Linked DNA regions of Homo sapiens: region 2 is linked to region 1. The links come from fine-mapping of genetic effects on gene expression. A gene starts in region 1. The other region holds a variant in brackets. All regions are shown on one strand. Distances are from middle to middle.

Region 1 (5,373 bases):
CAACTAGGACTGGAACAATGATGTTTCATTCAGTTCAATCCAACAAGCATTTCTTTAATATGTTTTCTGGATTGGGCACTGGACCAGGTTTTAGGGATCCTAAGATGAAATAAGATATTGTCCCCATCCTCAGGGAACTCGCAATCTATCAATATTCATTAAAAATAATTAAGTTGAGAGTGAAGGGAACTGTAGTTGGGTGGTATTATGGACTAAATTGTGTCCGCCACCCCAATTAATATGTTGACACCCTAACCCCCAATGTGACCGTATATGAAGACAGGGCCTTTAGGGGGGTTAAGCGAGGTCATAAGGTTAGGCCGCAATCCAACAGGACTGTCCTTATAAGACGAGGGAGAGACCACCAGAGCTGTCTCTCTGCCTGTGTACACAGAGGAGAGGCCACGCGAGGGCACAGTGAGAAGGTGCCATCTACAAGCCAGGAGGAGAAGCCTCTCCAGAAACCAACTCTGCTGGCACGTTGATCTTGAACTTCCAGCCTCCACAACTGTAAGAAAATCAATGTCTCATGTTGAATCCATCCAGTGTGTGGCATTTTGTTGTGGCAGCTTGAGCAAACTAATACAGACAGGTCTTAAATTTTTATTCATATTGTGACATTGGCAGAATTCAGTTGGGCCATTGATCACCCACATTGGAAGATTGGAGGAGGCAGCCTGGGCTGGTGTGGGCTGCTTATACCACAGACAAAGTGCAGGTAGAGTGAGAAGAGGGCCCAGAACCAAACAGAAACTCCAAAATTTAGGAGTGATAACTAGGATTTGTAGAAACTTCTATTTGGTTATAATGTCAGTGTGTTGATGGCTTATGCAATACAACATGTACATTCCTCTCCATTCTCTTCTTCATCCTCAGAGGGATGATGGGGAAGAAATTGTAGAGTATCTGTAGTGAATTCTTAATTTCTACTCTATCCTTTCTCTACTCATTGACAGAGCCAAAACTGAGATGTGGAACTCATGGAATTTGACATATTGACAACTCATTTCTTCATTAAGTATTTACTAGCTTGTGTCTTCTGTTGATTCCTGTATTATTGCTACTTAATGTTTTACATATTGGCGCTTTGTCTTCTTCAACAAATGAATGCTTCTTGAGGACAGGAGCCATAACCTGAGCCTCTTTGCTTCTGCTCTTTATTCTTAGTGCTAGCACACAGCAGAGCTTCTGGTGGGTGCAGGGAAAATATTTGCCTTCAGTGATTATAAAAACGATGGTTATATTTTGGATAATCATTTTTTAAGCTCTTGCAAATGACAAAAATAGTCAAAGCAAGATATATTTACTTAAAACTACGATGTGCAGTTTAAAGCACCAAAAAGGTATTAGTGAAAATCATAGTATTTGAAGACTCCAAAAATTAATAGCTCATGGCAATGGATCTCCCATATCAGGAAAGTGTTGGGCATTGATCTAGATTTCAGAAAACGAGGGGTGTGACAGGTGTAAATCAGTGATCCAAGGCTGTTGCCTGCGGTCCTATTTATGGCTCACTGACACCTCTCTGATGGGGTGAATTCAGCCTGATTTTCCCCTCTGACTCTGCAGGCTGCAGCAACTCACTGGGAGCCATGGGAAAGAGAGAAACTCCTCCCTCCAGGGGTCCTGGGCAGAGACAAATGGATCTCCCCTCCCCCTCCCTTATCTGAAGAGGGCTTCCCTCTGAGAGTTTATGGCAGCCTGACCTCCAGCCTCTGGGTTGGAGAATCTGGCCGCTTCTGTACCACATAAAAAGGGCAAGTGCATTCATTATTATTATATTATTATACAATGTATAATATATAATAGCGATTATGCTGTCAGCAGCCAGAGACTCTGACTGCAGATCAGAGGCTAGGGTGACATAAATCCACCTAGTGAAGTTTTTGAAGGTTCTATGTGAAGGTGAGAGGATTCTAATCTGTCTATAATGGGGGCTACCACTGAAGAGTTTCTCCCACAAGCAACGTTGGTGGGTGGATTTGAGGGTATTGGGAGGATCTGGACAAACAGTAGTGTGTGTATCTGGGATGTGATATAAGAAGGGTCTCAATTGCCTCCCCTGAGCCAGGCAATGCTAACAGCTCTCATCCTTGCCCATGACGGAGGCGGGTGAGTGGCGACCCAGAGGCCTGAGAAGAGCTCAGGGGCAGCCTTCAACTTCTTGGGTCAGATTCTTTACTGAAAACCCAGAGGCTGGGTTTCACTTTCTGCTTTCCCGCTTTTGTCGGTGTCTTTGTCTGGGCTTCTTCCAGGCCCCCTGCCTGGCCTGGGGTCAGAGGATCAATGGCTGCCTGACTGGCTGAAAGGGCTCCTCTATGGGGAGCAAGAAGCAAACTTCCAGAGGCAGAAGGGGTTCTCTTGTCCCTTTATGCGGAGGGCCATGTGCTAAGTTGAGGAAGCAAGCAAGTGTGCTCCTGTGTGTGGCTCTTAGTAGGACTGTGATCTCTGCTGAGTGAATGGAGGCGCTTGTGGGTCTACACATGCCTGCTTTTGTCTTCCACTGTAGAGGGCATGTAAGGAGCCCATTTCCTCCCTGATGTAGATGAAGCCACCCCAGCAGGCCCAGGCTGAAACAGCCCAGCTGGTCTTTCCCTTTATATGACTGCACCCCAGCCCCCAGAACTCTGGGAACTCACTGAGTTTCTTGAGGACTTTTTATTAGAATGAAAATAGCAGTGGCTTAGAACAGGCTTGCCTGACATTTGCAAAGAAGTGCTTTACTGACAAAGCCTATCCACTCTTTCCTCTCTCCCTCTGCCCCACCTTGAACCAGACACCCCGGGAAGCCCACAGCAGAAAAAGCTCTTGAGACCAGGAATAACTAACCAGAGTGTCATCTGAACACCTTTTCTGGGGCCAGGGTAATGAGAATTATTCAAATGCAATCATAAAAATGAGGCCAGCCAGGCAGGAAAAGGGGGAGGGGGAGTGCTGGTGGAAGGAAGGATTTCTTGCCCGTTTTAAGTTTCATCATTTCTGGGGAGTTCTCTTGGGGTCCACAGAAAATCTCACCTCATCTCGGTCCCCTCAGCACCGGTGATATCTTGGAACTCGGCCCCGGTTGTTCGCTAAGGAGGACTTGGCTTGGGGGCGGGAGGGTGCTCCAGAGTTCCTGGGGGTCCACCGCACTCCCCATCCGAGGCTCCTCGCGAGCGGAGCCGCTTCTCCAGGCCGCCCGCCTCCCTGCCGCAGGAGCAGGCCCGCGCCCGCCGCCCGAGAGCCTCCGGTAGAGGGAGACACTCCAGCGGCTCCTCCGACTTGGCAGCGGCCGGGCCGGGAGTGGGTGGGGGTGATGGGGGGTGGGGAGAAAAGGGGGAGTGGGGAGAGGGGAGGTGTGTGAAGGGGGGGTCCGGGGGGCGGGTCCCTGTGCCGCTGACGTCCCGAGCAGTGCTGGGAAGTATAGGCTGTGTTGTCACGCCGGTGTCAGTCTGATGAAGATTGGCATCAGGTAAGCTGTCATTCATTTCCATGTCAGAGACGCTTTTGCAGGCGGCGGCGGCGGCGCGGCGGCGGCTGCTGCTGCGGGCGGCTGCCTCAGAGCGCGTGTGTTTTATTCCAGTCCCCAAGCCAGAGTATTATTCATTGCGACAGGGCAAGGAGGAGAGAGGGAGAGAGGGAGGCAGCAGGGAGGAGAGAGAGGGAGGCAGCAGGGAGGAGGGAGGCAGGGAGCAGCGAGGGACGGCGGGAGCGTGCAGAGAGAAGCTGGGGAAGCGCCGGGAGAGCGCGGAGCGGAGCAGCGCGAGGGGCGGCGAGGCCGGGCACGGAGGCTGCGAGAGCCCCGCGGGCCGCCCGCTCCCCTGCCCGGCCAGCGCTCAGCCCCGCCGCCGCCGCCGCCGCCGCCTCGCCGCGCTTGGGCCCGTGGCCGGCCGCGCATTGTCCTCGGGTGCAAGGAGCCGGGCTGCGGACTCGAATCGCCGCGGGCCCAACCCCGTAGCGGGCGGGCGGGGAGCTGTGCGCCAGGAGCGCCAGGGGACCCGAGAATAGGAACAGGCACGCCGGCCCGAGCCCGGGTGCAGAAGGCTCCCGGCCGGGCGCTCCGCGGGGAGAGGCTGGGAACCGCGGGCAGGCTCCAGGTTCTCTTTCTCCCGGCTTCGGGCGTCCTTGGGGCCGGCGCTTACTCCGCGCCACCAGCCTGGAGATGCTTTCCAGCGGCTGGAGGCGGGAGCGGTCCCAGGCTGGGGCCAGGTGACCGGAGGAGTCGAGGAGCCGCGGCCGCGGCCTGGGGAGGCAGGGCGAATGAGGGTTTGCAGACGGATCAGTGGAGACAGGGGAACACCGGCGGGGCCCGGGAAGCCAGGATCCGAGGGGCTACACGCACGGACCCTCACCCAGGGAGGAGCGAGAATGTGTAGGGTCACCGGCTTTCCATGATTGCTGGGGATCTTTGGTGAGGCGGGCGTAGGGGCCCGCGCGAGGCTTGGGAATCGGGAGCCCTTCTGGCTCGAGAACTAGGGGATGAGTTCGTAAAAGAGGGAACTGAAAGCGATCGAGAGCGGAGAGCTGAGGGGGATGGCGCAGGATCCCGAATCTGCCGCTCAAAGTTTGCATTTCTTTCGGGTTAGGAGACGGGCTTTCCTGGCTCCCGATCCCCAGGAAGAAACGAGCGAAATGGGCCGTCCTTTCCCGGGGCTCTTCACGGGGGAGCCGGGGGTTTCCGCGCGGTGGGGAGACTCGGGTTGGGAATTGAGGGGTAGGGGCTTGTGGATCGGCCTGAATTAGGGCTGGGTTTTAGGACCAGTCTAGAGTTCGGTTTATAGGATCCAGACTGTTTACGGAATCGGGATCGAGGGGCCGATAAGTAGTTTACACGCCGGCCAGAGCAGAGGGCTGGAGGTCGGAGTTGGGGGCTGGAGGAACGGGTGGCGTTTTTAGGATTCAGTAACAGGATCACAGCTTTTTCTTGTGGTGGAAGCTATTGGAATTTGGGGAGGGTAGCACGAGGGGTCCTGCAGCTCCGCGTGTGAAAAAGCGTTTAGGTAGGCGATGAAAGTAGTTGATCTGAGCCATGGCAGGCGAGCCCCGAATTTTTGCTGCTTCCCCCTGAAAGTGTTTCTTTAGGAGGAGAGGACTTGGGCCACACAGGACCCGGTCCTAAGAGAGCGATTCCGGGAAGCGGACAGATCGAAGAGACCTTCTGGGCGAAGCGGCAGGGCAGCCTCGCGGGGCTGGGAGTGGATCTGAGGTCCCGACCCAGGCGGCTCGGAGTGCTCCAGGAGCCACCTGGGTCTGCGGGCGCAGCGCGGCGGGGCGGGAGCGGTGGCCCGCAGGGGCCGCGGCCTGCGATGAAGGCCGGGGGGCAGCGCTAGCAGCGAGGTGCCACAGTGGGCCGAGGAGTCTGGGCTGTGGCCCAGGGTAGGACCGGCTCAAACT
Region 2 (5,373 bases), 100 kb after region 1:
GTCACTTGCCCAAGGTCACACGGCCAGTCACCCCCAGTCCTTTGCCTTCCTGCTTTGCTTCATTTCCAAGAAGATGCCTCTGAGATGGGAGATGTTACACTGACTTTTGGGGGCATTTAGCCAGTGTGATGTCCTTGATTCTTGAACCTTTCATCCTCCCCACTAGTAAAATGCCTGCGAGACAGAGGCTGGAAGACAGCCCTGCTTTTCTGAAGGGGTGGGATTATGGATGTGTGGAGGCAGGAAGGGGGTATTAATTTTTGTGAAAATAACTTTTTAAAAATAAAAGTAGGCTTCTGCAGTAAGACAATCTCATTTCAGTTTGCAAAGAGCTCCTCCCAGTAAGAAGGGAGAACGTTTTCTCCTTACCTCCTCGTTCCTGGCCACGCAGACCCTCGATAGGCCCTGCCACCATGTCCCTCTCACTCTGCGTGTGCAGCCACAGGATGCTGAGCTGCTGTCCTTGAGCCCTTTCCTTACAGCAGCAAAACCAATCCACATGCAAGGTCTGGAGGTCAGGACGGGACTCACGGCTTCTTCCCTACTTCCCACCCAGGTTCTAAAGTCATTTTACTTAGCACAAGGAAATGAGGAAAGAACAGGGGGAAATGAGGAGAAAGAACAAGCATGCCTATCATGCGCTCCACGTTGTGCTAGGGCCTTAGGAATGTGCCTTCGGCAAGCACTATATCTCCCTTTTGATTTTTCTGTGGAAAAATCTCCCTTTTGATTTCTCTGAGACAGAGGCTGTTTAGAGGCCATGAGAGGGAGGGGTTTTGTCCTTGCTATCATTGTCTGTTTCCGTCACCAGCCAAAGCACGGACCCTGATCGGTATCTCCATTTGGCTAACTCACCTTCTCTTCTGCTATGTCCTTTCCTCCCTCCATCATTTGAAAATTTCACAACCTGTGAGGTTGGGAAGCATAGGTAGACGTTTGGTCAAGCTGGAACGACAGTTCTACCAAACTCCTCCCCTTGTGCTCATGTGTGTGTTCCCGTACCCACGTGGATCTAAGTCCTGTCCCGGGATAGTGCTCGTATCTGGAGTGAATGGAAGGGTCAGGAAGGATGTGCTTGTCCTGAAGGCTTGTAGAGGGAGGAGCTATCATGGCAGCCTCTCCTCCTGAGCTCATTCAGGTGTTCCCTCTGCCTGGCTGGGCCATCTCTTTCCTTGCCCTTTCAGTAAGAGGCTGTGGAATTATGTGAGGGAGAGGAAGAAGCTACTGCTTAGAGGGATTCTGCTCTCCAGGCCTTAAGCTGGGGTGCTTTCTAGCTCCGCTCTTCTCGTTTAAAGGGATGGCCTGACTCCAGCAGGTATCTGGAAGTAAAAACAACAAACAACCCCAAACATCTCCCAGCGCCAGACTGATAGCTCAGATTTCTACCACAGGTGAGATTTCCTGCTCATCTTTCTGATGGAGGAAGCCTGTGTGTGTGTGTATGCACGTGTGTGTGTGCATGTGTTGTGCATGTGTGCGCGTGTGTGTGTGCATGTGTGTGTGTGTGTTTTCTCTGCTGATTTATAGGCACTTTTTGGGTTGATAGATCTGTGAGGAAGAGTAGGAATGGAGTCAGGGAATTGTCTTCGATCAGAGGCCTGATGAGAACAAGGCGCTCATCAACACTGTTTAGGAAGGTGTTTTGTGCAGGAATTTGTGGCAAGTGATGGGAGGATGGTAGGGTGTGAGAAGAAGGGGGAAAATGCCACAGTATCTGACAACTTAAAACTCAGGGAGTCACAGAAATGTTGGGGCTTTGAGAAAACTTTGCCAACAACTCTCCTCTGAGGGTCTCTGGCCTGAGGTCACTGAGAATCTCAGGGAAAACAGGAGCAAGGACACAGCGGGCCCTCATGGGAGCAGATGCAGTCCTTTGGCCCACCTGCCCCTCCCTGCTCTCATCTCGGAAAACGTCGGCCCCCAACGCAGACAGGTCACTTGGAAACCAGGGAGTGGGGTTAAAAGCATCTCTCAACCCAATGTTCCCTTCCCCTTTCACATGCAGTATTTTGGGAACCGCGTGCTGTAGAAGCTGCATTGTAACAGTGGAAACATTTTAATTAAATGGGGAGACCTTAGGTCTGTCACATGACCTGGGTGTTCTCCTGTATAAAATGAAGGCTGATAACAGCTCCTTGACCGCTTCACAGGACTCTGGGGTCAAACGTGGCATGGGAAAGTGCTTTGTAAGGGAATTCAGATGTATAAGCTGTTCTTAGTAGGAGAGCAGTTTGCTCACCTGCTTAATGCTGGGGTTGGGGCAGGGCTGAAGCTGGGAGCTGGTGTTGGTGACTTCGGGAAGTTAGCTCTCCCTTGCTTCCAAGTCAATCAATGCTGGCTTTCAGTGATATTATTGAAAGCATATAAAGCTGGTCTGGTTGGCCTTAGAATAAAAGCTTCTGAAGGGCAGGGGGGCCTGGGGCTGTGTGGGACAGAAGTCTCTTGTTTCAAGAAGACATCAGTTCAGTGGTGGTATTCTGCCTGTGCCTGTGAGATCTGGGCTCGGACAAGCACTTTAAACCCACAAGTTGGCTGCATCATCTCTGAGAATTCCGTGACCCTTTCTGGG[G/A]TGGGGGCTGAGGAGGCCAGGAAATGGCTTTGGTCCCATTAGTCATTCTGGCGCCAGCAGCCCGACAGCAATGGCTTCTCATAGGGGAGTTGGGGGAGATGCCCATGGCGGGAGGGTGCCATGGGGGTGGGGTGGAGGGCAGGGGGGCTGCTGTTCTCATGCCCCTTTTTACCTAGATGCTGCCAAAGGTGGTCCCTGGAACAGTGACCACAAAGTGTCTCATGGGAGGAAGAAGGATGAAAGAGATGGGAATTCTTGTAAATTTTTAATCTGAAAAATAAAGAAAGTGTGAATTAGAATTAATGCAGGTATTAAATATTTAAACTTTCTGTACTCACTTTCATTTTTAACATATTCCTTCCTCAAAAACCTCGATAACGCTTGTCAGATTTGTTCTCAAGATGTCCCCCTCTCTCCACCTCCCCCTAGGCCCAGCCCCAAAGTGAGACCGCAGGTATTCATCATCCTGATGGAAATGCTCATTTTATTTCTCCTACAGGAACCATCTGATCTCTCTCTTTATATTTATGCTTTCTCTCTGTGGCAGTGTAAATAATTAATGCTGTTACAAACACATCCTATGCAAAATATATATTAGAAAAAATAACTCTTTAATTTGGCATGTCATTTAATTCCATTTTGTAATCATAGCACAGGGGCTACAATTAATGCCAGGGCTGAGGAATCCAGCCTGACTGCTGACACTGGCAGAGGCACGACCAAGTCTCCTAGACTGAGGCCCTCTTGGACTCTCAGCTGTTTCTTCTTTGTGTGCTTTTGGTTGATGGATGGAGATGGTACCCACTGTCCAGGGCGAGGCTGAGAGTGAGTCTGGAAATGAAACAGGAAACTCACTTCTATCTTCAATAGAATGGGGCAAGGGTGGTCCAGGTCTCTTCAAGTGCACTTGGTAGCATTCATCCAAAAGGATGCTGGGACATTTAGATGTAGGACATTTGGTACATCCTCACGGGGTCGGGGGCGGTTGTCCTTGGACTTTTGGGGAGTTCTCACAAGGATTGGCTTGGGGCACAGTAGCAAAGAGTTTCCTGGAAGTTGGGTTTTATGCATGCATTAATTTAACAAATATTTATTGAGTGCCTCATATGTGCCAGGTGTTGTTGTGGGCACTGGAGATACAACAGTGACTAAGACAAGGAATGAAGATGAAAATATCCAGTTTCTGAATATTCCACCATCGCCTCTGCTCATTCCTTTTTCCATTCAATGGTCTTTCTGGCTATCTTAAGGAATCCATCTATCAGAGCCATTGCCCCCTCAGGTTTTAAGAACTCTTGGCTAGTATTTGAATAACTCAGTGTTCCTGGATTTACCAATTCCTGTGAGTTTAGCACAACCTCGCAGATAAGATTGCAACTACCAGCAGCCCTCTCTCCCCTGGGAGGAATCCTACAAACCGAATGACTGGCATCGGCATTCCTTTCTCCTGGACTCCAGGTGTGGTCTTCCCTCTGCAGGTGGGTGAATGGCTCTTTTGGGAGACTGCAGGTCCTGCCATGACATGGTGTCTTGCACTGCTGATCCTGCCTCTATGTGTCATCTCAAGGGCCCAGACCTGGGGCTGAAGCCTTGGAGGTTTGAATTTCAGCTTTCATGTGGCATTTGTCAGCCTTTCCCCCTATTGAATATCTTCTGTAATTGTCCCACGCCTGGCGCCATTCAGTGTGTGTTCCCAAGCTAAAAAGCCCTCATTCACTTGTGGCTCAGGCTCTCATTAATTCTTTCATGGGGTGGAGAATAATGAGGGGACAGCTAATACACTCGAAAAAAAATTGATTTTGTAGTTAGCAATTTGCCACTCTTTGTTTGGAAAGCCAATGTGGACTCCTCAGCCTGTAATTCCACTGAGGAGAAAATTTAAACAATTGGCACCCAGGCCCCAGCCCACCTTCCCAGAGAGGCTCTGATGCACTCTGCATTTCATGTTTCCCAGGATAGGATGGCGGGAGGAAACTTGGAAATCATCACGAGCACCCTGCTCTTCTCCCCTGACTCAGGCTCCTGGACCAGGGCCTGTATCAGGCATGGGCTGATTCAGGAGGTGGAGATCTGTCTGACTTGAAAGGCCTATGGGAGGAGTTTCCAGGCATCTCAGAGGCTCTTGATTGGCTAGGACCAAAGATGCTGAACCTTAGCTGCCTTGGGGGGTGACACAAGAAGTTCTGCAGGACTAACCCCTGTGACTCAACTTCTGTGTCTTTCATGGGGGCTGATGATCCTGTCTGTGGATTTGGAGGGAAGATGTTTGAATGATTTCACAGTTCCCTGCCCCACCATCCCGTCCTCTCTGCTGGGATAGCCATGGGACTGAATTCTACCCAGACTCTAGTATATACTCTGGCCTTCCTTCTTAGGAAGGATTTAAGGAGCTCTGAGTTAGTTTTCAAACTTTGCTACAAGTCCAGCTTGGCCATTTTGCTCTGCTTTTAGAAAATGGGCTTTCATCTTAGTAATACCAGATTTCCATTTGTACACCGTGTCAATCTGACAAGACACTCATAATCTCTTTCCGGACATCTCCATTGCTGAATTCTCCCTGAATACAGTGTTCCATGCTCTCCTTTCTTGAATAGACTTCCTCCCATAATTTGCACCGGGGTTTCTTCCCTACCTCCATCCCAAGGCAGAGTGCATATTTGGGTCAGCTCTCAGCCCCACTCCTGTTTTCATTTGTTCATTCAGTATTTGCCATGCTGGCACTGTATCAGAGCACTCTGCTCACTTGGTTTTCAGAGGAGTCTCAGTTCCTGTGTTCCAGAAGACACTGATTTCAGTTCTGTCTA

Direction of the effects. Positions count from the first base shown, and alleles are read on the strand shown. Sizes are in standard deviations (SD) of each study's normalised expression.
As copies of G replace A in region 2, the expression in spleen of the gene that starts at base 3,426 in region 1 goes down (large effect, 1.2 SD a copy in GTEx).

What was found.
Region 2: its variant is fine-mapped to the expression of PKNOX2 in spleen (GTEx, PIP 0.96).

What each region holds. Positions count from the first base shown.
Region 1 is chr11:125,161,326-125,166,698 of GRCh38, forward strand. It overlaps PKNOX2 (PBX/knotted 1 homeobox 2), which reads left to right and starts at 3,426. Exons shown (of 13, transcript NM_001382323.2): 1 at 3,426-3,451. It overlaps PKNOX2-DT (PKNOX2 divergent transcript), which reads right to left and starts at 3,284. Exons shown (of 3, transcript NR_125759.1): 1 at 3,016-3,284. RefSeq lists a silencer at 3,139-3,288.
Region 2 is chr11:125,266,271-125,271,643 of GRCh38, forward strand. The region is part of intron 2 of PKNOX2 (PBX/knotted 1 homeobox 2); the gene reads left to right. It overlaps PKNOX2-AS1 (PKNOX2 antisense RNA 1), which reads right to left and starts at 528. Exons shown (of 2, transcript NR_187382.1): 1 at 370-528. The variant G/A (reference allele first, on the strand shown) is at 2,570.